Linked DNA regions of Homo sapiens. The protein of the gene in region 2 purifies or fractionates together with the protein of the main gene of each other region. This does not show direct contact. Each region holds a gene or a part of one and is shown on either strand. Other genes may lie near its edges.

The links.
Region 1: the proteins of TAF8 (region 2) and GAN purify together in Homo sapiens (co-immunoprecipitation; 2 studies listed by BioGRID and IntAct, with this or other methods). This does not show direct contact.
Region 3: the proteins of TAF8 (region 2) and TAF4B purify together in Homo sapiens (affinity purification with mass spectrometry; 3 studies listed by BioGRID and IntAct, with this or other methods). This does not show direct contact.

Annotation. Positions count from the first base shown.
Region 1 is NC_000016.10:81,358,948-81,368,885, reverse strand, and holds part of GAN (gigaxonin), read right to left. Parts: intron 6,388-9,938; coding exon 6,275-6,387; intron 5,093-6,274; coding exon 4,943-5,092; intron 3,913-4,942; coding exon 3,776-3,912; intron 3,537-3,775; coding exon 3,408-3,536; intron 1-3,407. UniProt on the Homo sapiens protein: Probable cytoskeletal component that directly or indirectly plays an important role in neurofilament architecture.
Region 2 is NC_000006.12:42,072,726-42,082,663, reverse strand, and holds part of TAF8 (transcription initiation factor TFIID subunit 8), read right to left. Parts: intron 5,565-9,938; coding exon 5,425-5,564; intron 5,132-5,424; coding exon 5,119-5,131; 3' UTR 2,929-5,118; coding exon of another isoform or gene 2,889-2,928; 3' UTR 1-2,888. UniProt on the Homo sapiens protein: The TFIID basal transcription factor complex plays a major role in the initiation of RNA polymerase II (Pol II)-dependent transcription.
Region 3 is NC_000018.10:26,269,787-26,279,724, reverse strand, and holds part of TAF4B (transcription initiation factor TFIID subunit 4B), read right to left. Parts: intron 5,063-9,938; coding exon 4,901-5,062; intron 4,795-4,900; coding exon 4,672-4,794; intron 1-4,671. UniProt on the Homo sapiens protein: Cell type-specific subunit of the general transcription factor TFIID that may function as a gene-selective coactivator in certain cells.

The DNA.
Region 1 (9,938 bases), on a different chromosome or scaffold from region 2:
AAGGGCAATCAAAAACTCTGAGCAAAAAGGTATGTGCCACTATGCCTGGCTGATTTTTGTCAGGTTCATCTTTCAAAACCACAAATAAGTAACTGCACTGGCAAGGCTGGCCAGAGGCTAATGACACTACACAGATGCAGGAATAACTGTGAGGGTAGCAGCGGGGCAGGGAAGGTGGGAAATGTGAAAAATGCTACCAAGATTTAAAAAAGGACCAGACCTGGCAACTGATGAGTTGCAAAGTACAAGACAGAATTCAAGATGATTCCCTTTTCTGAGACAGGGTCTTGCTCTGGCACTCAGGATGGAGTGTAGTGGCACGATCATGGTCTACTGCAGCTTCCACCACTTCCCAGGCTCAAGTGATCCTTCTGCCTCAGCCTTCCAAGTAGCTGGGACCACAGGCGTGGACTACCATGTTCAGCTCATTTTTGAATTTTTTCAAAATTCATAGAGACAAGGTCTCACTATGTTACTCAGGGTTGTCTTGAACTCCTGGGCTCAAGGGATCCTACCACCTGGGTCTCCCAGAGTTCTGGGATTATAGGTGTCAGCCACTGTGCCAGCCAAGATGACCCTTTTTTGAACATGGATGACTGGGAGGATAGTAGTGTTACTAACAGAATATGGACACAAGGAACAGAAATAGAGAAACCGTCATTCTGGGTATATGAAGCTGTTGCTCTGGCTTGGTAATACTTTATGGCAATTTCTTTGCTTTCCTTTCAAGCAGTTTTGCTTTTATTCAGAAAAACAGAAAAGAATAAGATATGGCTTTTTTCCCAGAAAGTTTTAACCTAAAAATAGGGAACAAAGACAGGAAAGACAAGAGATTACTTAAAAACAATCGACATGGTCTCCAATCAAATATGGACTGCTCATCCGGCAACTACAGTTTCCACACTATGCCAATATAACACATTTGCGTCTGATCTTTTAAGAAATAAACTACTCCTACATGTTATTTTGTTCTATCGATAGTTATAGGAAAGCCTATATTTTTAAGTCAATCTAGCGTGGTAGTTGAAAAGGTGGACTCTGGGGCCAGAACGCCTGAGTTCAGATCCCACCTCAGCTTCTTGCTCCTTGTGTGTCTGTGGGCACACCGCTCACCCTTTCCTCATATGGAAAATAGGAATAGTAACAGTACCTACATGCGCTTCAGAGTGCTGTTTTGAAGATTAAATACATGGCATTTGGTGTTATATGTGTGTTTAATGTTATCTAAACATGTTAGAATCTTATATTGGTAAGATAAATTAACAGCTTTCTTCATTCTATTTACAAACATCAGAGAGCTTAGAAATAAGGAACTGAATATACATTAATTTTATTTGGAAGTGCTCTTATTTATTTAGAGACAGGGTCTCGCTTTGTTGCCCAGGCTGGAGTGCAGTGACACAATCTCGGCTCACTGCACACTCCACCTCCTGGGTTCAACCAATTCTCATGCCTCAGCCTTCTGAGCAGCCAGGACTACAGACACGTGCCACTATGCCTGGCTAATTTTTTTTTTTGTACTTTTAGTAGAGACAGGGTTTCACCATGTTGGCCGGGCTGGTTTTGAACTCCTGGCCTCAAGTGATCTGCCCGCGTCGGCCTCCCAAAGTGTTGGGATTATAGCCTGGAGCCAGTGCACCTGGCGAGAAGTGCTTTTAAACAGCAAAGAAGGAACCACAGTCTTACGTTTAATTATTATGAACTTAAAGCAAGTGATAGTTATATTAAAAGCTTATCCAGTACAAATATGTAACAACCTGATAGGCCAGGTGCGGTGGCTCATGCCTGTAATCCCAGCACTTTGAGAGGCTGAGGCGGGCGGATCATTAAGTCAGGAGTTCGAGACCAACCTGGAAAACATAGTGAAACCCTGCCTCTACTAAAAATACAAAAATTAGCCAGGCATGGTGGCATGCGCCTGTAGTCCCAGCTACTTGGGAGGCCGAGGTGGAAGAATCGCTTGAACCCGGGAGGCAGATGGTGCAGTAAGCCGAGATCACGCCACTGCACTCTAGCCCGGGCGACAGAGCGAGACTGTCTCCAAAAAAGAAAGAAAGAAAAAAAAAGACTTCATCCCTTGGGCAATCAGCCCTCCCAGTCATGTATCAAGGAAGGAAAAATGTAGAGAAGTCTGAAAATCTGCCCCTACCACAGCAAGTATTCTCTAAACTGCTCTCTAATAAATTTTCCTAAGATAGTCTATTCCTGTAATTGAAAAAAAAGGCTATGCAAATACCCTAAATTTAAAATACATGTTAGGCAGCATTTACATGCATTTGCAGCATCTTTGTAACTGCTCACTGCGTGCCCTCATCTAAAACAGCATGAAATTAAACATTATGTTATGGCACCCTCTTCTGGTAGCACGACTGAACTACTCTAATAAAATTACGTTTAGCACAGCAATTTCCCCTTAGGATTTAAACATATTACTGCAATAAGAATACTGCTCAGTGGTTACAACAATAAAATGTGTGAGGAAAGAGAGAAGACATCGAGAAGGATGTTATCTACCCTACAAGACATACGTGGCACTTGTCAGAGGTTTTAAGAATCTCAGAAATCAAGCCTCAGCCACTTAATCAACATTTTACTAAGCATCTGATACAGACAGGTAGGATGCTGGAAGCCAGGATACAGAGCTGACGAAGGTGGACCTTGCCCTGAAGTTGCTTGCAGTTAACAGCTACAACCCCAGAGACTTGTCTGGAGGGCATGGAATCATAGATGAAGGGATAAAAAATCAGACTAGGAGGCATGAGAAGGCTTTCTCTAGGTTTTGATAACTAAGCAGTTTTGAAAAAGGCCAAGCTAACTGGATGGACAGCGGGAAGGGAGCTTTTAGGCAAGTAGCAGCAATACGAACAGAGCTGAGACAACCACACATGTTTGCAGGGGAAAGTGGCTCGGTATAAAGTATCTGGGTCAGTAGCAGAAAAAGCAAAGGCCATATCACAAAAGGCTATATATGCTAAGTTAAGGAGTTTATTTATTTTTCTTTGGAGAACAGGGTCTTGTTATGTGGCCCAGGCAAATCTCTAACTCCTGGGCTCAAGCAATCTTCAGTTTCTACCTCCCTAAATGTTGAGACTACAGGTGTGAGCCACCATGCCCAACAAGTTAAGGAGTTTTAAACTTTTTCCTAAAAGCTATAGGGAGCCAATAAATGATTTTAAGCAACTAAGCGTCAAGATCTCATCTACATATTAGAGATATTTTCTATTTGCAGACATTTTAAGTTACTAGCACTTGTGAAGTCACTGAATAAATATCTAGTATGCATGAGACGTTATCTCCTAAATCCATAATTTAATAAAGTGACTGAAAACAAAACTAAACAAAGCTAAAATACGACTGAAAGCACAAAGAAAAAGTTGCAGTAGCTATGTGAAACCATTCTTAGTTACCTTTTAAACTCATCATGGTAGAACTCGGACTTGCAAGTTACCATCTCGCTACCCTGGGCGTCCTCACGACTTCGGACTCCCCCAAACACATACAGCTCCATAGCAACTCCACAGGCCACCGCTCCAAACCTGAAAGGCCACACACAGCGTTATCAGGCACAAGCTGTACAATGCGAGATCTCACTCCCGCGTTCCTCTTATGCTGGTTTAACTCTGCAGCATTACTACGTGGGCCTTCCTTTCTCAGGAAATGCCAAGTCAAAGAAAAGGTTACTCTGAAAGAAAAGAACAAAAGCCAGGCAGGGTAAGGGGCTCCAGACCCAGTGAACAGCAAGGGAATCTACAAAGTCCACCCCACAGCCACGTACCTCCTCTCTTTTAGTGGACATATGGCAGTCCACTGCTGGGTCCTGGGATCATAACACTCTACAGACTCAAAAAGCTTTCCGTAGGAGCCTCCACCCATGGCGTAGATTTTCTTTTTCATAGCTGCATAGCAGCCGATCTGAAAGCAGAGAACAATGGTGGGGGAGAGGCAACATTTCTCATTCAGGTCAGGTGAACAGATATTAAACTGTCTGGGCCATACTTAAAGAGATTTAGGAAGGGGTTTGATTTCTAACCGTAAAACGATGGTGCTTTTCAGTATTACAACACCGGACTTTAAAATGAGAAGAGCAAAGTAAGACACATATTCTTAATCTTCAGAAAAGGAGCTCTTACTCCAACTGATACTATTTCACTAACTGAAAGAAGTTCAAAAGCCTCATTTTTATTTATTTATTTATTAGAGACAGGGTCTCGTTCAGTTGCCTTGGCTGGAGTGCAGTGGTGCCATCATAGTTCACTGCAGCTTCAAACTCCTGGGCTCAACAGATCCTTCCGCCTCAGCCTCCTGGGTAGCTGGGACTACAGGTGCACAGCACTGTGCCCGGCTAACTTTATTTAAAACTTTTTTGTAGAGATGGGGGATCGCTTCAGCCTAAGAGTTCAAGACCAGCCGGGGCAACATAGTGAAACCCTATCTCTACTTAAAAAAACAAAAATTAGCTGGGTGTGGTGGTGCACACCTGTAGTCCCAGCTATTCAGTAGGCTGAGGTGGGAGGATTGCTTGAGGCAGAAAGAGGTTGCAGTGAGCCAAGATGGCGCCACCGCACTCTAATCTGGGCAACAGAGTAAGACCCTCTCTCAACAACAAAAGGAAAGAGAGAGAGAGAGTAAGAGAGGGAAAGACAGAAAGAAAATAGGTTGGGAAGATGTGGCTGCTGCACCATTTGCACACTCAAATGTGGAGCTTGACACACAGCGGTGCTGCACAGGGCCCACAAGCAGGATAAACTCTCACACACGCTCACTTTCCTATCTTGGTGTGTGGCTGATGACAGTGAAGGCAAACTACCGATAAAGAGAGTTCTATAAAGTTAATTCTTTTAACACCATCAGTTATATTAAAGGTTTATTCAGGATATGAAGACACATTAAGTTTAAAATCCAATGTGTACACAGACTAGTTATCACAAAATGCAGTCCTCACCTTTCTGACCATGGTCAAATCAGGTTGCTTTGTCCAGGTTTTAGAATAAATATCGTAACACTCCATGGAAATCAGCTCCTTTTCACCATCCTCTCCTCCCAAAATGTACAGCATCCCATCTATCTCCACAATTCCGAAGTTATGTCTTGCCTGAAATTACATTAGCGATCCCTGAACACACAAGGCCAATGATCATATTGAAAGCTGATATTCATACACTTAATAAAAATTAGAGAAACATAAAGATGGCAAAAATAGACAATGGGGACTCCTAGAGCAAGGAGACAGGGAGAGGAGCAAGGGCTGAAACACTAACTATTGGGTACGACGCTTGGTACCTGGGAGACTGGATTAATCTTACTGCAAACCTCAGCATTATGCAATATACACACATAACAAACCTGCACATGTATCCCCGAGTCTAAAATAAAAGTTGAAACTATTTTTAAAAATTAGAGAAATCTTTTTTCCCAGTGTTCCAGCATGGAAGTACCACGTTCAAAACCATTTCTCCGGTAATGCTTCTTAAAGATTTCTGGCTTCCCTAACAGCCCACTCTTCCAGCACAACAGCCAGAGAGGCCAAAGCCACTTCTCAAAACAAACTTAAGAAATACATGGTGAGTTCATCAGAAAATCCTCACTTTTTAACCCATAATAGCTCACAACAAGAAAATGAACTGTTACCTCTGGTTCAATACAATTATTTTTGCATAACAAAGGGCAGTGTTTTCAAGTTGACGTGGGAAAGGCTAGTATAAACTATGGCAGAAAGGGCTGTGGAGGACAGGGTCAGGCCAAGGCTATTTGGGATCATAGAAGCCCTAGGTGTTTCATGTCCGTTTGTCAATGAATATTTATGTAGTAAACCCTACGTGCCAAGCACGATTCTAGTGCTGAAAATGAAATACTGACCAGAACACATGTAATTCTCTGCCATCAAAGAGCTTATGTGAAAAACTTTAAATGCCTGGTCCGTGAGATGGTGAGACGTCGTACGAAGACGGGGACAGGAAAGCTAAGAGGCAGGAGGGAGGCCCGCTGAGAAGGTGCTGCGAGGAGGGGGCAGGCCACGCTGGCATCTGCACAGGGCAGGATAAATGTGAAGGCTGGGGTGAGGGCATTCCTGGAAGATTTCAGAAACTCATGGAGGCCAGAAGGAGTGAGGGCCAGGAAGGGGAGGAGAGCCGGGCACTAGAAGGAGAGGTTGGAGCGAATGAGGCAGGTGGCTTGACAAGGCTGCCGTTTCTTCCCTGAACTCAGACACAAAACAAACAGAAGCGCTAAGGGGAAAGAGAAACACATCAAACAAACCAACCAACTAGTGTTTTACCTCGTTCATAGGTGGCAATGCTGTCCATGTATTTGCATCTGGATCATACTTTTCTCCTGAGCTAAGAGTCTGCTTATTTTCATCTTGGCCCCCGAATACAAACAAAAATCCTTCTGCAAAGATCAAAGGAAACACAAATATGAAATGTGAGTCTTCAACACCCATAAACGCCACAGCATATATAGAAACAGCATCTGAAGAAACTCTCTGATGACAACAATGTTCTCTTTGGATTCAGGGCTTTTATCACATCCCATTGGATCCTTGGTGATGGAGCCAAACCATCACTTTGACCATTTTGCTTTACTCATTACTGTCTTTGAGGGGATTTCCACCACCCTACAATGAAAAAGGAAGCCTGGCGTCACCCGCTCAGTCACCAGGCAACTCTGGGCCATCTCAATTCATCTCTTCTGTTCCCTCTCAGCCTCTGGGATTCTCATACAACTTTTGCACCGCAGCGCACATCTGTTCATTCTAGACCCCAGGAATACCCAGATCTGAGGCATCCGTGTGCACTTTCTATTCAAAACAGGATCTAAGAGCAACTGAACTTCCGATTTCATGTAATGGCGTATTAGGTTATTCTTCTGCAAAAAACAATTTGCTGGATAAAACATTTAAAAAATAATCTTAGCCGGGTGGTGGTGGCTCAGCACTTTTGGAAGCCAAGCTACAAGGACTGCTTGAGCCCAGGAGGTTCATAGGAGGCAACACAGCAAGACTTCATCTCTACAAAAAATAATGAAATTAGCCGGGCATTGTGGTATTTGTCTATAGTCTCAACTACTCAGGAGGCTGAAATGGGAGGATCGCTTGAGCCCAGGAGTGTGAAGCTGAAGTGGGCTGTGATCATGCCATTGTACTCCAGCCTGGGCAACGAAGTGAGATCTTGTTTCAAAAATAACAACAATAATAATCTTCTTAGAAGAGGAGAAGCCAACAAGATAACAAGGCAAAACTGAAGGGAAAATTAGGACCTACAGAGGTTATCAAGCATGAAAACCATTTTACACTGAGGGCATTTCTAATCTAGGAAAATTTAAACCTTTTGTCCTGGGGATGAAAAAGACAGAAGTTTAAGCTCCAGGTCCACAGAAAACGTGGCTTCTGGCAGGAGATCCTCTCCAAAGTTCTACACTGTCAGGATGAAGGCCAACCAGAATTCGTACTCAGATTTAAATCTCCTTGCTATCTGGGAAATCATGAGCCTTGAACTTAACTTACAGTTAATACCAAATTAGTAGTGTTTTCAGTCAACTGGCAGAAACAAATGCAAAACTTCTGTAGAAGGACCTTAATCTAAGCCTTAGATTCTAACATCCCAGGACATCTAAGGCAGAAAGTTATTGCTACAAATAATTTTTTTTTGATTTTTTTTGTTTTTTAAAGACAGTCTTGCTCTGTCGCCCAGGCTGGAGGGCAGTGGTGCAATCACAGATCACTGCAACTTCTGCCTCCTGGGTTCAAGCGATTCTCCTGCATCGCCCTCCTGAATATCTGGGATTACAGGCACATGCCACCACATACCCAGCTACTTTTTGTACTTTTAGTAGAGATGGGGTTTCACCATGTTGGCCAGTTGATTTCAAACTCCTGACCTCAAATGATCCACCCGCCTCAGCCTCCAAAAGTGCTGGGATTATAGGTGTGAGCCACTGCGCCCGGCTGCTACAAATAATGTTTAATAAATGAGCAGCATGCAGCCACAGATATCAGACATACCAAAAATTAGACTCTAAGAAAAGACCAGCAGAAGCAGATCATAGGAAGTAGTCTTGCAAAGATTTCAAATATTATAGTAACCAGAAAGATGATTTTTTTCAAGTTGGGTGATGAAGAATAAAGTCTAAAATTTATTTAAAAAACAAAGATAATTTAAACAAATGCTTATCATGTTTAAAAAATAAAAATTAACTGGAAGATAACTCCAGGTAACAGGGAACTATAGAAATAAGAGAGGATTTGAAGGTAATGGTGGATTAAGTTATTCTCCTGTAAAAAGACAAGAATTTGTAGAAATTAAAAAAAAAAAATCAATGGATAAATGTAATAGCAGATTAATCAGAGTTAAGGAGAAAAGAAGATAAATCAAAAGATAATAATCAAGAAAACAGCACAGTGAGACAAAAAGATGGAAAATAATAAGAAAATTTTAAATACACACCAGAGAAGAGATTTTTTAGACTTGCCACTGACTTCACAACAATGGAAGGCAGAAGTCAGTGGAATGACTTCAATGTGCTGAAAAATGATAAATACCAAAGCTGAAATGCTATACTCAGCAAAAATATCCTTTACGAATGAAGACAAAATAATGACATTTGCAGGCAATCAAATCTGAGAGTTGTCCACCAAAAGACCCATATTAAAGGAAATTCAAAAGGATGAACTTCAGAGAGAAGGGAGATGATCCTAGGTGGAAAGTCTGAGGAGTTAAGAAGGAAGAACGAAGAAAGTGGCAAATCTAAATGAACACTATCTACCTACCTACCTGCCTGTCTATCAATCATCTATCTACCTATCTGTCTGTCCATCCATCTATCCATCCATCCATCCATCCATCCATCCATCCATCCATCCATCCATCCATCCAACATATATCAAAAAAAGACATATTGTGTATATAGTAGCTACCCCTTATCTGAAGTTTTGGTTTCTGTGGTTTTATCACCCATGGTCAACTGCAGTCCGAAAATAGGTGAGTTCAGTAAAGTAAGATATTTTGAGAGAGACCACATTCACATAACTATTACAGTATATTGTTATCGTCGTTTTATTATCAGTTATTGTCGTTAATCTTTTACTGTGCTGAACTTAAACTTTATCATGGGTATGGATGTATAGTAAAAACACACAGTATGTACAGGGTTCAGCACTATCTGTGGTCTCAGACAACCACTCGGGGGTCTTGGAATGCATCCCTCATTGATAAGGGGGATCTACTGTACATATTTATTAGTGATAATGCATTTTAAAACTGTAAGAGTATGGAAAATGGAAAATGAAGAAAAACTCTCCTGAAGAGAACACAGGTACTGACTAACTTTGGACTTTGCTAACTTAATACAGGCTGTAATTTCTAAGGTAATCTTCCTAAAGGACTATTAACAAGAATGTAAGTCCCAAACTGGTAGAGAAGAAAAATTGAATGACAAAAAAACAGTCAAAATCAATTTTTAAAAAGGCAAAAAAAAAAAAAAAAACAATGCAGCCTGGACAAACGGAAGGACCTCCTCAATCACTCACTTCTGTTTCCATCAATTCCACTGTACACAGTCGCTCCTTCCATTGCTGGGTTTCTGAAACACCAATCCCTCTAGCAAACTTTCAAATATTAGTCATATAGGAGCCTTTGTGACAGACGTGTATGTGTGAAAATTAGGAATATGTGTATATATTTTGGGGGAAATGTAAGGGAGCTAATTCTGAGAAGATGCAACAGGGAAACTAGACCTACATCCTGCAGGCTATACTACTCTGTCCAGCTCTTCACTACTGACAATAACTAATAATTTTGGGACTCATAAAATGACTCCACTTCTATACTATGGTAGAGCCTTGGCCATTTGTATGATGCACTGTGGTACAGTATAGCTTTAAAAATATTATAGCCTGGGCAACATTGCAAGATCCCATCTCTAAAAAGAAAAATAAAATAAAA
Region 2 (9,938 bases):
GCCAACGTCAAAAAGTCCCATACTCGGCCAGGTGCGGTGGGTCATACCTATAATCCTAGCACTTTGGGAGGCTGAGGTGGGCGGATCACTTGAGGTCAGGAGTTGGAGACCAACCTGGCCAACATGGTGAAACCCCATCTCTACTAAAAATACAAAAGTTAGCTGGGTGTGGTGGCACATGCCTGTAATCCCAGCTACTTGGGAGGCTGAGGCAGGAGAATCTCTTGAACCCGGGAGGTGGAGGAGTTGCAGTGAGCTGGGATCGCTCCACTGCACTCCATCCAGCCTAGGCGATAGAGCAAGACTCTGTCTCAAAAAGAAAAAAGTCACATACTTTATGATTCAATTTATAACATTCTTTCAATAACATTAGAGATAGAGAACAGAGTAGTGGCTGCCAGGAGAGAAGTGGAAGAGCAGAGAGGTGGATGTGATTGCAAAGAGACAGCATGAGGGAGAACTGTACTGATGCAATGGTTCTGTGTCTTCACCATTTGTGTGCTGGTGGTTACACAAATCTACACGATGAAACTGCACGGAACAACACACACATAACACACACGTGCACATGGTGAAAACTAAATAAGCTCTATGCATTGTACTAATATACCATCTACATTGTACACTGAAACTGAATGCAAGGGTTTTGATATTGCACCACAGTTATGCAAGATGCTACCACTGGGAGAAAGTGGGTGATGGGTACATAGGATCTCTCTCAACATTTTTTGCAACATCTTGTGAATCTATAATTATTCCAAAATTAAAATTTAAAGAAAGATCAATCAGAGATACGTATAGACACATTTAGATTAAATGACACAGGTCTGGAGTTTGCATTTAAAAATACTCCAGAAGAGCCAGGCGCGGGGGCTCACGCCTGTAACCTCAGCACTTTAGGAGGCTGAGGCAGGTGATCACCTGAGGTCAGGAGTTGGAGACCAGTCTGGCCAACATGGTGAAACCCCATCTCTACTAAACCTACAAAAAAATTAGGCCAGGTGCGGTGGCTCATGCCTGTAATCCCAGCACTTTGGGAGGCCGAGGCGGGCGGATCATGAGGTCAGGAGATCGAGACCATCCTGGCTAATGCAGTGAAACTCCATCTCTACTGAAAAATACAAAAAATTAGCTGGGCGTGGTAGCAGGCACCTGTAGTCCCAGCTACTTGGGAGGCTGAGGCAGGAGAATGGCGTGAACCTGGGTGGCGGAGCTTGCGGTGAGCTGAGATTGCACCACTGCAATCTTGACAATCCACTGCAATCCAGCCTGGGCGACAGAGCGAGACTCCGTCTCCAAAAAAAAAAGAAAAAATTAGCCAGGCGTGGTGGTGGTGGTAGATACCTATAATCCCAGCTACTCAGGAAGCTGAGGCAGTAGAATCATTTGAACCCGGGAGGCAGAAGTTGCAGTGGGCCAAGATTGCACCATTGCACTCCAGCGCGAAACTCTGTCTCACACGCACACACACGCACACACACACACACACACACTCCAGGAGGAAAGAAAATAAAGGACAAAAAGTGGGAGAAACAGATGAAACAGAATCAACAAGCTACTGACAAGTGTGGAAGCTTGATGAGGCATATACAGGGGTTCATATATTTTGCTCTCTAATTTTGTATTTGAAAATTTCCAAAATAAAAGTTTTACTAAGTTCCCAGGTGTGCTTAGGCCAACACAAGGGCTAAGCCTGACTTATTTGTCCACATTGCTGTTAACTTTTGAACACAAATTAAGTTCAAAGCTTACAGTTCTATTTATTTACAAAGTTTTTATTATGAATTTTTATTGAGATTTTCATAAACATTTTTAATCTGCATGTTTACTACTTTTGGCCTCTAAGAAGTCCCATAAAGTTATAAAAAATAGAAATTTATAAATACACATTGAGAATTTTGCATTTTTATACAGGGTCAATGTTTCAAGTTGTCTAACCCTTTCCCTGTCTCCCCTCAGAACAAAATTATAAGAGTATAGCCTCTGAGGCCAGGCGCGGTGGCTCATGCCTGTAATCCCACCCACACTGGGAGGCCGAGGTGGGTGGATCATCTGAGGTCAGGTGTTCGAGACCACCCTGGCCAACCTGGTGAAACCCCGTCTCTACCAAAAATACAAAAAAAATTAGCCGAGAATTGTGGTAGGTGCCTGTAATCCCAGCTACTCAGGAGGCTGAGGCAGGAGAATCCCTTGAACCCAGGAGGTGGAGGTTGCAGTGAGCCGAGATCACGCCATTGCACTCCAGCCTGGGCGATAAGAGTGAGATGCCGTCTCAAAAAAAAAAAAAAAAGAAAAGAAAAAAAAAGAGTATAGCCTCTGAAATCTCAACAGCAGAAATAGCAGCCCTTTTCCAAATCCCACCTCTAACTCAGCACATCTGCATTCAACAGGTGCTTACACTGGATAACAACAACAAATGGAAGCTGCAGAAACACTGACTGGGACAACACCTCCCAAGAGCAGTGAGAACAGCTGGGATTGGCCACGGCTTGAATGTGGGGCTGTGTTCATAAACTTATCAGGCCAAGAATCGCTAAGAACTGAATCACAAACCCTGAGAAGGCCACATAGGCCAGTCTAACTGCTTCGATCTAGGAGAGTTTCACGTTACTACAAACCTGAAAAACTCCTATTTAGTCCAGTTGGGGAATCCAATTTTTTTTTTTTTACTAGCGTCCCCTCTTCCGTTCCTGACAAGCAGCTCTTTCCTTACACAGTACAGTGAGGCCAGAAGAACATGGAGCCTGCTGTCAAGTCCCCAAGTTTTTCAAGTTTCCAAATTCACCAAGGGAATGGAAGACTAAGAGATGGGCTGGGCACCGTGGCTCACGCCTGTAATCTCAACACTTTGGAAGGCCAAGGCGGGTGGATCACTTGAGGCCAGGAGTTCAAGACCAGCCTGGGCAACATAGCAAAATCCCGTGTCTACTAAAAAAAAAAAAAAAAAATTAGCCAGATGTGGTGGCGGGCATCTGTAATCCCAGCTACTCTGAGAATTGCTTGAACCCGGGGAGTGGAGGTTGCAGTGAGCCGAGGTAGTGCCACTATACTCCAGCTGGGGCGACACAGCGAGACCCTGTCTCAAAATAAAAGGAGTTGAACTGTGGAAGCCAAAGGGGAATACATGAAGCTAAATATGGACGTTAGGATTCTAATTTGGGAAACAAGCTTATTCATCCAGTGTTCACTTCCACGTGTTGTTACATTTTTCTTCCTTGGATTTAGTTTTAAAAACTCTTCCTTAGGAGACCAGAAAAGCTATCAGCATGCCCAGCATCTTCCTTAAAAACTTGTTTTCTGGTTTGTAGGGTATGTTAAGAATGAAGTTGTTCTCCCCACAGGATACAAATTGGTTGGACAGACTCAGACCTGCTTCTTGCAGAACGCCTCAGCTTGGCTCACTCCTGCCCATCCACCAGCCTTCCAGCTGACCAGCCGTTTCTCAGCTTTCAGAATACAAGATGAGGCCCAGCCCTCAACACCCCACCCTCACCCCACCAAATCCTTTCCTATTGTTTACTTTATCCTTTTTTTATTTTTTTGAAATGGAGTCTCGCTCTGTCACCCAGGCTGGAGTGCAGTGGCACGATCTCGGCTCACTGCAACCTCCGCCTCCCAGGTTCAAGTGATTCTCCTGCCTCAGCCTCCCGAGTAGCTGGGATTACAGGCATGAGTAACCACACCCGGCTAATTTTTGTATTTTTAGTAGAGACGGGGTTTCACTATGTTGGCCAGGCTGGTCTCGAACTCCTGACCTCAAGTGATCCACCTGCCTTCGCCTCCCGAAGTGCTGGGATTACAGGCGTGAGCCACTGCGCGTAGCCCCTCTTTCCTACTGTTTAAACCCCATGGCTCCTCTGTCAAGTCCCAGCATAATAGAGCCGACGCTCTAGGCTCTTGTCAGAGAAAACCTCTTCTTCCAGAAGGGGTAAGACTTGGCAGTTCCCAAGCACACATTCCTCACAGGGGCAATAAATGGTAAATCTCTCAGGAGGAGAGTGCTGCCCCGCTTCAGGGAGCTTTCGTCAAATGCCGACGGGAGGACAGGTGCAGCCCCGACATGTCGTTCTTCTTCACAGTGATGCATCTGCTCAAGACTCCTGACTCCTGCCCACCCCAAACAAAGCTGTGCTGTGTGGCCTCCTGTTTCCGACACGTTGAGGGAGTACAAAGAACTTTTCATCAGCTCAACGGAGCACTTGGGAGGCCAGATGAGGAGAGAAATAAGAATGAAGTTCTGGGATGAGAAAGTGGTGCCACAAATTGTGAGTCAATAAAAGGGATCCAGATATCCTGAAATACACGCTGGACAAACAGTCTTCCTTGTAATAAGCACAGCAGCAAAGAGCCCTTTCCTTCCTGTCACTTTCCCTGGTCTCTTGAGTTTCAAAGGAATCAAATCCTGTGATAATGAACGAAGTCACTGGCTGCTGCTATGCCCCACCACATAGCCTGATTGATTAAGAAAGTCTCTGGTGGGGTGCGGTGGCTCACGCCTGTAATCTCAGCACTTTGGGAGGCCGAGGCGGGTTATCACTTGAGGTCAGGAGTTCAAGACCAGCCTGGCCAACATGGCGAAACCTTATCTCTATTAAAAATACAAAAATTAGCTGGGCGTGGTGGCTCACACCTGTAATCGCAACTCTTTGGGAGGCCAATGCGGGTGGATCACTTGAGGTCAGGAGTTCAAGACCAGCCTGGCCAACATGGCGAAACCCTATCTCTACTCAAAATACAAAAATTAGCCAGCATGGTGGCGCTTGCCTCTAGTCCCAGCTACTCGGGAGGCCAAGGCAGGAGAATCACTTGGACCCAGGGTTGCTGAGACTGCAGTGAGCTGAGATCACACCACTGCATTCCAGCCTGGGTGATAGAGTAAGACTCCATCTCAAAATAAAAAAAAAAATTCTCATTATTCTGTTCATATCTTCCTCAACCCAAACATCCAGTGAAAATAGGTCATCTTAATAAGACGGTTTGCCATGAAAATCATGTCCGATCACACCCTGCAGCCTCGGCTTGGCCATGAGGAGGTCACCCTCTTCTTCCCTTGAGTGGCTTTAACTCCCCGGGAGGGTGGAATCTGCGCCCCTGTACAAGCCAGGTTTCCTTCTCAGCTCAGGAGAGGGACCTAGAAAGAAGAGGAACCATGGAGCCTCCTGGTGTGGGCCCTGTCTGCTCTCCTTCTAGGGGAAAACTGCTCCAGTGCTGTGAGGGTTGGTCCCTAGACTGCAGGACACTCAACCACTAAGGAACAAGAGCTATGTACGGGAGCCAAGTAAGGACAGGAAAAGGGAGACTATTCCCTCTCACCAGAGTGGCTTTCCCCAAGGCTCCGCCCCACTGAGGAGACTCTTCCAAGAAGCAGAGAAGACCACCTCGGTGGGACAGTGAAGGCTCTCTGGACCCCAGCCTCCAACTCACTTCTTCCTGCGGATCTTGGGCTTCTTCACCGGCCGCAGATAAGGGTTATCGATGATGTTCTCCTCCCCATTCCGGCTACCCGACAAGGAGGGGTTCTGCTGCAGGACAGAGGTGTTCTCCTTCTCGGCTCCAGAATCCTCCTTTGAGCAAAAGCCAAAATAAAGCACAACATCAACAGCATAAGGAAAGAGATCATGCCTATAATTGGAATGACCATTAGCATCCTCTAATTGAGAAATTAGAACCTGGGAAGCACCTTCTTTCCAACATTCCTATCTCTGCCCCGATGAAGCGAGGACCAGGCAGGGGCTGGCTATGAAGGGAAGGCAAGACTAACAGCCTTGACCCAAGAGAGCACACAACAGAGTCCAGAGTTTTGAACCTCTGGAGAAGGCAGGGACAGGGGTTAGAAAGAACAGACACCTGGGAGGGACAGGAATCAAATTCAGATGCCTCAGGGAGGATGCCCGGCCAGGTGGGGAGATGAAGAAGAAAAGTGATCCTGGATGCCCTGCATGACTGGGAGATACAGGATCAGAACACATCATCTGCATAGCGCATCTCCTGGCCAAGCTAGATAGACTAAGTCAGAACAGATTTCTCCCTCAAATCCTCACATTTCTGGTACTTGCAACATGGTACCAACAATCACATCCCAGCACAGGCTAGAAACTTCTTGAGCCTTGAGGGTTCCACTAAGGGACGCAGAGCCAGCAGGTACCAGCACATGCACATCATTGGTAATGCCTATCTGCAACCTATGAGGCAGGGTTTGTTTGTTTGCCTGTTTGAGATGGAGTCTCCCTGTGTCACCCAGGCTGGAGTGCAGTGGCGTGATCTCGGCTCACTGCAGCCTCCGTCTCCGGGGTTCAAGCAATTCTCCTGCTTCAGCCTCCCAAGTAGCTGGGATTTCAGGCATGTGCCATGACGCCCGGCTAATTTTTGTATTTTTAGTAGAGACGGGGTTTTACCAGTTGGCCAGGCTAGTCTCGAACTCCGAGGCAGGGTTTTTTACTGTTCATTTTTTTTTTTTGAGATGGAGTCTTCTTCTGTTACCCAGGCTGGAGTGCAGTGGTGTGATCTCAGCTCACTGCAAGCTCCGCCTCTGGGTTCAAGAGATTCTCCTGCCTCAGCCTCCCAAGTAGCTGGGAGTACAGGTGCCTGCCACCACATCCCGCTAAGTTTTTTATTTTTAGTAGAGACGGGGTTTCACCATGTTAGCCAGGATGGTCTCGATCTCCTGACCTCATGATCTGCCAGCCTTGGCTTCCCAAAGTGCTGGGATTACAGGCGTGAGCCACCGCGCCCGGCCGCTTTACTGTTCATTTTTTGAGAAAAATGTGTTTTTTCAGAAAAGTTTGTAAGTTCACATGTAATCAGTATGATCAAAATTCTTAAAAAGTCACAGTTGTGTATAGACACAGAAAAAAAGGTAATATGCTGACATTTTAAAAACTGTTCTGGAAGTATGAGCAGTCAGTTATCCTGTCTTTATTCACAGCCTCCTTTATTTTCCACGTTTGGTCGGGCTGCGCCCCCTGGTGATGGGCCAAGGGGAAGAAGTTCTTCCACGGGGAAGAAGTCATTGAGATTCCTGTTCTGCAACTTGAGGCTAAAGAGGCCCTCACTGACCTCAAGCAGGAGAGGCTGCTGTCAAAACAGACAGAGGATGCCATGACCGGATGGCATGAAATAAATAGCAGGTTCCCCTGACAGGACAGCTGGCCTAGGGCATGGACACCAGTCTCAGGTTTAATGAGCCAGAAGAAACCAGATCACATCTAGGTTCCCCTGCGTGCCCTCTCCCTGTCCTATCAATTGTTCTCTTCAAAGACACAGTTCCATTGGCCCAGTATCAGGGCCTGTGTGTTTTCCCTCTCCAGCACCCAATCCAGTGGGACCACAAGGTGACCCAGAGCCACTGGGGCCTTCCAGAGACTCTTGAAAGCAAGTGCTGCAGGACCAACCTAGTTCAGGCCAGACCAGGTGCCGGAAAAAAGGTCTGCCCACAACCAGACCTCCCTTGGGTATCTGGCATCCAACCTTTCTGAAGTTCCTAATGGTACAAATGAGTAGTATCTCCTCGCTCCGTCCATCCTATCATTTCTCTACAGTAGACAGCCTATCTTCAAAGTTACTGGAAGCTCACTTCAACCGTGCCTTCAATGTTTTCTGAGATACACATGGAGGTAACACTGTTAGAGGTGCTGAAAACGCCAGCCTCAAGACACTGCTGGAGGGTCAAGAGGCTCCCTCCATTCGGCCCACCGTGGCTCACAAGAGCAGGACGGCAGGCTTCCTTCTCCCAAGCAGGCCTCATAGAAATGTCCCCTTCAGGGACAGGCAGCACTGAGATGGTTAGGGGTGGGGAAGTCAGCCAGTTAAAAAAAAAAAAAAAAAAGTAGGCCAGGCGTGGTGGCTCACGCCTGTAATCTAGCACTTTGGGAGGCCAAGGCAGGTGGATCACCTGAGGTGAAGAGTTCGAGATCAGCCTGGCCAACATGGTGAAACCCTGCCTCTACTAAAAATACAAAAAAATCAGCCGGGCATGGTGGTAGGCGCCTATAATCCCAGCTACTTGGGAGGCTGAGGCAAGACAGTCGCTTGAACCCGGGAGTTGGAGGTTGCAGTGAGCCGAGATTGTGCCACTGCACTCCAGCCTAGACGACAGAGTGGGACTCTGTCTCAAAAAAACAAAAAAGTAAAGTGTCAAACTGACCCAGAGATTTGTAAAAAAAAGTGGGAGCAGAATGGTCCGTCAGGAGCTCCCTGAATTGCCTGTGAGCTCTAGCAAGGCCTACACCCTCTGTGGTGACTGCATCCAGTCTCCCAGCTCTCAGTGCCATCTCTACGCCAACAGCTCCCTGGAGTACAATGCCAGCCCTAACCTCTCCCGACTTCCAGGCTCATGCAGCCAGCTGCTCACTCAGCATTTCCACTGGGGTATCAGGTAGGCAGTTCAGACTTCAGGCACCTAAGTCTGAATTGGGGACCTTCCCCTGTGGTGTAAACGGCGCTTCTCAGTCCCTCCCATCACAAGTGATGGCAACTCCATCCTTCTAATGGCTCGAGTCACAAACTCTGTGGTCATTCTTGCTTGTTTTCTTTCTTTTATTTTTAAACAGGGTCTCACTATGTTGCCCAAAACTGGACTCAAATTCCTGGGCTCAATCTTCCTGCCTCAGCTTCCCAAGTGACTGCAACTATGGGCATGCACCACCACACCTGGCACACTCCTTTTCCTTCACTGACATCCCATACCCAATCTGTTAGCACAGCCTCTTGGACTTACCTTCAAAATTCAGGCAGGCACTGACCACTTCCACCACCTCTGTGGCAACCACTCTACTTGGGCCCACCACTGCCTCTCGCCTAGGCTATAGCGACAGCTTCCTGACTGATCTCTCTAGTCCGTTCTTACCGAGCCATCAGAGTGGTGCTTTAAGAAGCTCAGAAACATCCCTCCTCTGCTCCACGCCCTCCCACAACTCCCATCTCTCTTAGTTAAAAGCCAGCTCTTAAAATAGCCTACAAGGCCCTACCCAATCTGACCCTCCCTCCCACAAGCCACTCACTATTCCACAGGGCCTTTGCACTGCCCATTCCCTCTGCCAGAACACTCTTCCCCAGATATCCACATGGCTCACTCCCTCACCCATTTCAAGCTCCTGCTCAGATATCCCCTTCTCAGTAATGCCTACTCCGAGCACCCCACTTAAAAACTGAAGACTCCTCCTCACCCTGGATCTTCCCCTACTGTTTTTCCCCCACACAGCACTTTCATTTCTGATATACTATGCAACGATTTAGTCATATATTGTGTTTGGTATCATTCTCCCACAGCCAAACTCTGCTCCTAAAAGGCAGAGGTTTTCTTTGTTTTTCTCACTGCTTTATCCCAAGCAGCCAGAAAAAATATCTGGCACATACTAGGTGCTAAATAAACACTGGTTGAGTGAGTGACTGGTATATTTTTCATAAAAGAGTAAAAGCTTAGATATCTGGGTTGGCTGCAGAGAGCAGCTGGTTCAAATGTGTGAGAAAAGAATCTATTATACATGAATTTAAATTATACATGAATTTAAAATGAATAGCTCCTTTATGTTCAAGTACATGGAGAAACTAGAACCAGGTTAAATAATGTACTGCCTAACAACAGACCTTGAGAGGTGCACTCTCATCAAGAGATAAAATAATAATTTAAAATACCTGTTATTGGCTGGGCGTGGTGGCTCACGCCTGTAATCCCAGCACTTTGGGAGGCTGAGGCGGGCGGATCACGAGGTCGGGAGATCGAGACCATCCTGGCTAACACGGTGAAACCCCGCCTCTACTAAAAATACAAAAAAATTAGCCGGGCGTGGTGGCGGGCGCCTGTAGTCCTAGCTGCTGGGGAGGCTGAGGCAGGAGAATGGCATGAACCCGGGAGGCGGAGCTTGCAGCGAGCCGAGATCACGCCACTGCACTGCAGCCTGGGTGACAGAGCGAGACTCGGTCTCAAAAAAAAAAACAAA
Region 3 (9,938 bases), on a different chromosome or scaffold from region 2:
ATCAGATAGTTGTAGGTGTGCAGCTTTATTTCTGGGTTCTCTATTCTGTTCAATTGGTCTATGTGTCTGTTTTTGTATCAGTGCCATGCTGTTTGGATCACTGTAGCCTTACAGTATAGTCTGAAGTCAGGTAATGTGATGCCACTTGGCTTTGTTGTTGTTGTTTTTTTTTTTTTTTTGCTTCTAATTGTTTTGGCTATTCAGGCTCTTTTTTGGTCCTATATGAATTTTAAAAGAGTTTTCTCTAATTCTGTGAAAAATGACATTGGTAGTTTGACAGGAGTAACATTGAATCTGTCAATTGCTTTGGGCAGTATGGCTATTTTAATGATATCAATTCTTTCAGTCCATAAGCATGAATTTTCAACAGTGTTTTGTATTTCTCCTTGCAGACATCTTTCACCTCCTTGGTTAGCTGTATTCCTAGGTACTTCATTTTTGTGTGTGTGGCTATTGTAAATGGGACTGTGCTCTTGATTTGGCTCTTAGCTAGAACATTTTTGGTGTATAGAAATGCTGATTTTTGAAAACTGATTTTGTACCCTGAAACTTTACTAAAGTCGTTTATCAGTTCTAGAAGCCTTTTGGCAGAGTCTTTAAGATTTCCTAGGCATAGAATCATATCATCAGTGAAGACAGAGTTTTACTCCTTTTTTTTCCTATTTGGAGGCCTTTATTTCTTTCTCTTGCCTGACTGCTCTGGCTACAACTTCCAATATTATGTTAAATAGGAATGGTGAGACCTTGTCTTGTTCCAATTCTCAAGGGAAATGGTTCGAGCTTCTGCCCATTCAATATGATGTTGGCTATGGATCTGCAAGACTATTTTCAGAATGACATTGTAAATCCATAACAGCAGTTCCAAAGAACTGAGGAACCTTTACACATTGCTTACACTATTAAGCATTTCAGGGGTATGTGTGATCTAAATTATTTTCCATTAATACTAACATCTTGGAGAGAAAGCCTTTTTCACTAAGCTAATGTTTGCACACATGGTGCAAAGGCAACAATGGGTAAAACTACCGGTAAGAAAGGCAATGGCAAAGTGAAACAGCCATCATCACATTCTACAGTGCTATGTGCTTGGAGAAAAAAAAAAAAAAAACAACAGAAGGCCAAGCACAGTGGCTCACACCTGTAATCCCAGTACTTTGGCGGGCCAAGGGTGCAGGATCGCTTGAGGCCAGGAGTTGGGAAACTAGCTTGGGTAACAAAGTGAAACCCTGTCACTACAAAAAAATATTTTAAAACTAGCTGGGCATGGTGGCACACACCTCTTAGTCCTAGCTACTTGGAGGGTGAAGTGGAAGGAGCCCTTGAGCCCGTAAGTTTGAGGCTGCAGTGAGCTAGTATCATGTCACTGCACTCCAGCCTGAGCAAGAGAGCAAGACTCTTACTCTAAAAAATAAAAATAAAAAAAAATAGACCCAATTTCACTTTGAAACATCCTTGGATGAAGCAGTAAAAATTAACTTTACTAAATCTCAACTCTTCAGTAGATACCTCTTTAATATTGTATATAACAAAATAGGAAACATACATGGAGCATTTTTGTTGCAGATCAAAGTCAGAGGATCAAGGAAAAGCACTGTAATTGAGTCGCTAAACTAGCCACTTTTTTCCATTTTTACTGAAAAGAATGGCAAAGCAATTGTGGTTATTCAGACTTGGGTATTTGTTAGATATTTTCTCAACAACAAACTAAACCACTAACAGTAAAGAAAACAATGGATAGCATTTGTTGCTAATGATAAAAATTAAAGCTCTCCAGCCAAAATTACAATTTTGAAAAATGTGTAACAACTATTCTGAGCTTGATAGCTTCCTGGTACAAGAATTTTCTAATAAGGTTGGTGAATTTAATGAGCATGTTATTTTGATATCTTAAATAATAAATCTGGAAACATTTGAAAGATCTGCATAACTCAGTGAACCAGTATTTTCCCAATGAACAATGAATGTCATTACAAAAATCATACGTGGGTAAAAGATCCATTCAGCATGCAGGATAAACCAGTAGACTCTAAAGAATATCCACCATGATCTGGAGAAAAGCTATTTTTAAAAAAATAATCACTATTCCAACCACCTCTCTTCACAAGACCAGATATTCTCCAAATACTCCCAAAAAAATAACATATCACAAAACAGATTAAATGCAGAAGATATGAGAATCCAGCTGTTTTCCATTAGGTCAGCCACTAAAGAGATTTGCAAAATTGGTACAGCAATGCCACTCTTCTCATTCAATTCTGTTGTTGTTTTGAAACTCGGTTTTCACTTAAATGTCAGTTGTGTTAACATTTAATGGGTTTACTGTTATTTGTTAATAAACAAGCTGGGCACGGTGGCTCATGCCCGTAATCCTAGCACTTCGCCAGGCCAAGGTGGGATGATTACTTGAGCTCAGGAGTTTGAGATCAGCCTGAGCAACATAGCAAGACCCTGTCTCTACAAAAAAAATCAAAAAATTAGCCAGGTGTGGTGGCACATGTCAGTGGTCCCAGTTACCTGGGAGGTTGACGTGGGAGGATTGCTTGATCCCAGGAGGGTCAAGAAAGCAGGGAGCCTTGTTCACGCCACTGCACTCCAGCCTGGGTGACAGAGTTAAGACCCTATCTCAAAAAAAAATTTTTTCAATAAAAAAAGTTAAGCATTTTTCAGTTTTAATGTTAACCCCACAAAAAACAAAATGCCTTGGGGAGTCCTCAAGTTTTAGGAATTTAAAGGTATCCTAAAACCAAAATGTTTTAGAACTGCTGTTTGTCGTTCTAAAGTAAACAGATCTTAAAACTAGAGGTAATATTTAATTCCTAACTGTTTCTATCTGTCCATAAAATTCACACATATGTTTTGTGGTTAAAAAGTCTTTAATATTTTATGGGATACGTATTCATTTCCAACAGGTCTCTTCATCTAGAGTATTCCATTTCAGAGAAACAAGTCATCATATCCCCTTTCAAAACTAGCATACCTTGAAAAGGGAAGATCAAAAGCTCAATGTTTACTTTTAAAAAGACACCCGTAAGTTGAATTAAAAATTTGTTAGTATGAGGTATTTTAGACATCTGTAATAAAAACATCTTCCCAAATGAAAAACTAACCATTTCAAGTGTGCTCTAACATCTTACAGGCAGCATTAAAAACAGTAGTAAAGAAGGTATTTTAATATTTATAAACTATGCTTGTTTTTGCTGTATAATATTTGAAATATACACATTTTATACTTGGAAAAAGGGATAATTTTTATGTGAAAAATATAATTCTAATTACGTGGTGAGAGAAATCTGTATATTATAGTAGTTCAAAAAATCCAAATCCATTTGTTTGTTATATCCTCAGCATGTCTTAAGCATATAATATGAAATATTTGCTAACTTCTATCTCCACTCTTTTTAGTGCACCTACATATTTTACCTGAAAGAGGATGTAAGAAACCAAAGGCATATAATTTGGTAGCTAAAAGACACAGCATCTTGGCACTCATATAAACATCAACGATCATCATGTTTAACATTCTCATCTGCAAGATGAGAATCTTATAGATAAGGAAAGTGAGGCCTAAGAGCATTAACTAACTTCTGTGGTCCCAAAGCTTGGTGTCTATCTGGACATATAAGAACCGAATTTCATTATCTATTGATAGCCTGGCTTTCTGAGATTTCATAATTCTTTTTTCTTTTCTTTTCTTTTTTTTTTTTTTTTTGAGACAGAGTCTTGCTCTGTTGCCCGGGCTAGAGTACAGTGGTGCAATCTCAGCTTACTGTAACCTCTGCCTCCCAGGTTCAAGCCATTCTCCTGCCTCAGCCTTCCAAGTAGCTGGGATTACAGGCGTGCGCCACCACACCTGGCTAATTTTTATATTTTTAGTAGAGAAGAGATTTCACCATGTTGGCCAGGCTGGTCTCAAACTCTTGACCTCAGGTGATCCACCTGCCTCGGCCTCCCAAAGTGCTGGGATTACAGGCATGAGCCACTGTGCCCAGCAGAGATTTCATAATTCTAATAACAATTTCCTATTGACTAAATAATGAACCTTTTCTCCAAGGCCCTTTGTAGAGTAAGGGAGGCAAGACTGATGTACAGAAATAATATATATATCAAAACATCATGTTGTATACCTTAAACATATACAATTTTTTTAAAAAGGTAAATTTTCAAAAGAAATATACAATAGGTTTTTCTAGCCAAGATTTATAGTCTTTACAAAGCTTTCAAGAAGCAAAAAACAAAATTTATCAAGAACTACATTTAAAATAAATCTCAGGCCGGGCTTGGTGGTTCACGCCTGTAATCCCAACGCTTTGGGAGGTCAGGGCAAGTGCATCACTTGAGGCCAGGAGTTTGAGACCAGCCCAGCCAACATGGCAAAACCCCGTCTCTACTAAAAATACAAAAATTAGCCGAGCGTGGTGATGCACACCTGTAATCCCAGCTACTCAGGAAGCTGAGGCAGGAGAATCATTTGAACCCAGGAGGCAGAGGTTGCAGTCAGCCTAGATCACGCCACTGCACTCCAGCTTGGGCAACAGAGCGAGACTCTGTCTCAAAACATAAATTAAATAAATAAATAAATTAAATAAATCCCATTTAAAAATATGCATTTCCCAATTACAACATGTTATATGGATTCCTCCAGAATTTGCAGGATTTTATAGCACTACTTACCAAAAGTTGTTCCACCAGCTTCTTCACATTTTGCCCCATTTCTGGGGACTGTGATCCACTACATGCTAGTTTTATTAACATTGCAAGGAAGTTCTTGCATTTCTTCACATTTTCTAGCATTGTCTAAATATGAAAATGTAAATATAAGCAAACACAAGTGTTAGTGAGCAAACAATTCAAAAGAACTTGCAAGGAACAAGATTTATGTAAGGTGCAAGTAAGAGCTTACCGGAGAAAGATTAATCTGAACAGCTGCTGAGTTCTCTGCTTTAAGATTGGGCTCATTTGAAGGAGTGGATGATGCTCCCAAACTTGAAGGCTTCAGGGTAGTTACAGTATTCAATGGCTTTCCAGGAGTAACTGTGACGACACTGGTTGGCACAGCCACAGACTGAAATTAAAGGTATTAAATATTTAGGCATGTATTACTATGATACATTAGTGGGTGCCTCATTTCACACTCATCAGACAAGTTAATTTTGACATCTGTGGTTTTATGTTATGCTCTAGTAGTCTAAGGCAATATAATACAGTTCTAGGAACTCTTGAGTCTAGCAGATCTGGGTTTCATTCTCACCCCATCTACTATTTCATTACCACCTACCAAGTGTTGACTGCAGGCAAGTTACTTAATCTTGCTAATCCTGATTACTCTCTGCAAAAATAGGGATTGCAACGGTACCTGCTGTCCTAGGATTTTTTGTGAAAAACAGTGCTAAAGCAAATAAGTCCTCAAAAAATATTATTAATACTCCAAGAAGTATCTGAAAGTCTTTATGAGAACATAGAATATTCTGCTTTTTCTTAAGAACAAAGCAGAGCAATCTACTTATTATCTAAAATTTAGATAAACTGCTTTTATGTAGACCATTAAAGTAAGCATGAAGAATATTATAAAACGTGGTATCTTATATTCACACTGAAAAGAATTTCAGTTGTTTCTCTACCTTCTATCAAAATGAGGTGTGACTCTAGCTAGCATCACCTACAGGACAAAAACCTCATACAAGCAATCACAAGTCAGGCAGTAATTTAGAAAATCACATTGAGATAAAGCAACAATCTTAAAGACAAACACTAAAAGTTACAGAACATAATAAAAGTTTGGGGATCAGGGATAAGGAATAGTATTTACATACAATTCACACAGAAAACTGAACAATGCACCATCATTTAATTTAAATGTCTATGTTCTACAAGCATGCAACACAAAAAGGTCAAGTTGCAATCACCTTCAAGAAAATTTCCTTCTATAATAGTCAAGATAGGTGAATTTGAATGTACAATAAAATCTCCCACATTAGAGAGACTGGAATATGTACTAGACAAGAATGTTCTGAGGGTAAAAAATGGGAAGAAGGACAAGTGCAGTGGCTCACACTTACAATACCAGCACTTTGGAAGGCTGAGCCAGGAGGATTGCTTGAGGACAGGAGTTCGAGACCAGTCTGGGTAACCTAACAAGACCCTGTCTCTAGAAAAAAATTTTCTTTACAAACAGGAAGAACATTTAAAATGCTGAGAATTGATAGAAGGAGAGGAGTGGGGACACATGGTGGCCCTAACATGGGTTTGGGGTATATGGGCCTTCATTTTACTATTATTTTTTTCAACAGCAGACATATTACATATGTGTACATATTACATATGTGTACATATCACATGTAGTCTTGTTTGCATGTATATTTCATAATGCATAATAAAAATATTAAATACCATATGCTAATACATTTGAAACAAAACCAAAAGGGTTTTTGGAAAAACATGAAATGACAAAATTAGCACAAAACACAGAAACTAGAATAGACAAATTAAAGACATTGAAATGATACCCAAAAAGACCTCCCTCCCTCAAGTCTCCAGGCTCAGATATTTTCCATGTGATTTTTCCACACTTTTGCATAACTCCTGTCTTATACAACATGTTCTAGAAAAACAGAATAGGGAAAGCTGTTCAGTTCATTTTATGAGAAAGGTCTGTAACATATTTCAATATTGAATAAGGATAATAAAAGAAAAGTAAACTAAAGGCTCACCTGGCAAAAACTTTAATAAGATTTTAAAATTACTGATTAATGATGAGGACTAGAACAATAAAGTTTTTAACAAAAGAGATAAAATTAAAAATTACACCTAAGTTAGTACAATTTTGTTAAATATAGAGCCTCAAATGCACATTCAAAAGGAAGTCTCCCTCCTTTTCATATCTTTAGTCCTGCTCTCCAACCTACCACTCAGTTTCTTCTGAATTCTTGTGGAGATTTTCTAATAAATTTTTAGTTTTCTATACAGTAAATAAGCCTCTTTCTTTAGTCTATCTTATAATCAGTCATTAACTCTCTGTACTGCCATATTTAAGAAAGTGTAATCTGGAATTTTAGCTGGTGGTTATGATCACCTCTGAGGACTGATGGGAGAGGTTCCTTGGGGGTGTACTGTCCCCCTCCCTCAGGAAGCAAACTAAGGTCCAACTGAAATGTGAGTTTAGGAAAAACGTCCTATCGTTTACAAGTAGAGGGGGCATTTATGGAATTCTATTTTCCTTGTCAATGTTTTATCCTGTCTCCAGTAAAAAAAAAATCTGTCCTTCATAACACTTTCTAGTATAGCTACTACTTGTATCTTACCACAGGGGTCCCCAACCCCTGTGCCGCGGGCGGGTATAGGTCTGTGGCCTGTCAGGAATAGAGACACACAGAGGAGGCAAGTGAGCATTACTGCCTGAGCTTTGCCTCCTGTCAGGCCAGCGGTGCCATTAGTCTCATAGCAGCATGAACCTTCTCGTGAACTGCACATGCAGGTGATTTAAGCTGCACTCTCCTCGTGAGAATCTAATGCCTGATGATCTTGATAGACGCAACCGGAAGATTAGGGGAAAGGTTCCAGAAGAATCCCCCACGCGCCTGCCCACTGGGAGGAGGAGGGGTGGAGCCTCAGGAAGATCAGGCCCTTTGCAAGGGGGAGGAGCCTGGCCTCTCCTGTTCCTGTGTGGTGACCCGAGATTCAATTTGTGAGATGGGGGCCTGCTAACGGGAACCCCTCTGGCTTTGCTGAGTTTTTTTTTTCTTTTCGCCTAATAAATTCCATTCCCCCTCACCCTTAAAAGTGTCTTTTTTTTTTTTTTTTTGAGACGGAGTCTGGCTCTGTCCACCAGGCTGGAGTGCAGTGGTGCGATCTCGGCTCACTGCAATCTCCGCCTCCTGGGTTCAAGTGATTCTCCTGCCTCAGCCTCCTGAGTAGCTGGGATGAGAGCCGCCCCCCACCACACCACCCGGCTCATTTTTGAATGTTTAGTAGAGACAGGGTTTCAACATGTTGGCCAAGCTGGTCTCAAACTCCTGACCTCAGGTGATCCACCTGCCTAGGCCTCCCAAAGTGCTGGGATTACAGGTGTGACTCACCATGCCTGGCCCAAAGTGTCTTAAACTCAATCACAACTCCGCCTTTGACTCAACAGACCAGCCAATGGTAACTTCAATGCTTTTCAAGGCTGCACTGACTGACTAGGCATGTCTTGAGGACAGGAGGAAAACGGACTGAAGTATATGTGAAATAAATGTGTGAAAACCAATTCTACACAGAGCCAATAAAATGAGTTGTATGGAAATTTAGAAGATGAAATAGCATTTCAAGGAGGGTCATTTTCTGTACCTGTCTGAAACAGCAATTGCTTTAGGTTTATTCACATTTAATTAGAAATACTAGTCATTTGCACATTAGATTCCAATCTAACAATGGGCCAAACTACATCTTCATCAAATACAAGGTAAAAGTGAACACAAGATTTCTAACTAGTTCTTGTGTTATATTTATCAGACTAAGCCTAATAGGAAAATACTTTCAAAATTTCTTAACACACACATTTGCATTTACAGTCTGACAATCAAGTACAAGGAGTTGTATCTTCTCTCATTTTTAAGTTCTAGCTCCTTATTTCCATGCCTAAAACTGAGATGCTTATCCCTTAAAGTGGACAGATATCATTAACTTCATTCTTTACTAATTTCCACTGTTCTAGGCTACCACTAAGGAGTAGCCCAACTTAAAATATGCATCAACCTAAATTAGCTAAGAAAAATAAATGGTCCACACAAAAATATCAATGACAGATTAACATGAGCATTTTAAAATAACTACAAACACGAGGAAACATACAAATTTCAATTATTTCTATTGTGACAAAGTCACAGATATGTACTAACACAATGTAATACTCCATGGTTCTGTAGTTTGAAGCCTACATTTGTAGCTGAAAGAAATTCTAAGTTTTAGTTTAAGCTTAGTAAAGATTTTCCCCCTCAAAATGGTTCCATAGTTTGAAGCCTACATTCATAGTTGCAAGAAACTCTAAGTTTTAGTTTAAGCTTAGTAAAGATTTTCCCCTTCACCTGAATTCACAGGCTCCAGGTTGTCTCTTTTATAAAAACTACTAATAAAGGCTGGGTGCAATGGCTGATGCCTATAATCCCAGCATTTTGCAAGGCAGAGGCGGGAGGATTTGCTTGAGCCCCAGGAGTTCAAGAACAGCCTGGGCAACAGAGTAAGACCTCATCTCTATTTTTTAAATAAAGTAATTTTTTTAAAAACTACAAATATAATTAGTGATCACTGGCTATGATTACTAAGTAAATGAACACAAGCTTTCATGTTCTAGAACTATTAAGACTTCAACGAATATTCAGAGAGCACAGAAATAGAATTGTGGCTGTAGCTGGCAGGGGACAAATTAAAGCCCATGGATGTAGAGAATCCCTAATACACTCTAAGAAGTAATATCCAAGAAACTCACTTTACCACTAAACTGGCTCCCAAAAGGGCCCTGAAGAAGTAGTGTAATGGAGTTCCTTCAGTTATCCCAGCACAACATAATTTGCTCTCTGTGTCCTGAAGAGCCATAATGTGCAAATGGCAGTCTTAAGTATCTAAGATCATGTTGCTAAGTATGTTTTCTCTCCACAATATATTTTTTTAACCTGTGGTGTTATTTATGTACTCAATCTTTAAGAACTATATCCAATGAAAAACTGATATACTCGAAGTACTGATAGTCTAAAGTGGTTAACTTCTTCATAAAACAATATGATAGTAGCTATCAATAGGCCTAAATTTATATTCTTTGGCCCAATAATCTCCTTAAAATTTATCCTAAGGAAAAAAATACAGTAGGTTTTGAGATAATCAGTACATAGGTCATTAAGAACAGTTTCCAGAGTCAGATAAAGGCTCAAATCCTCACTCTGCCACATACTAGCAGAAATCAAGCAAGC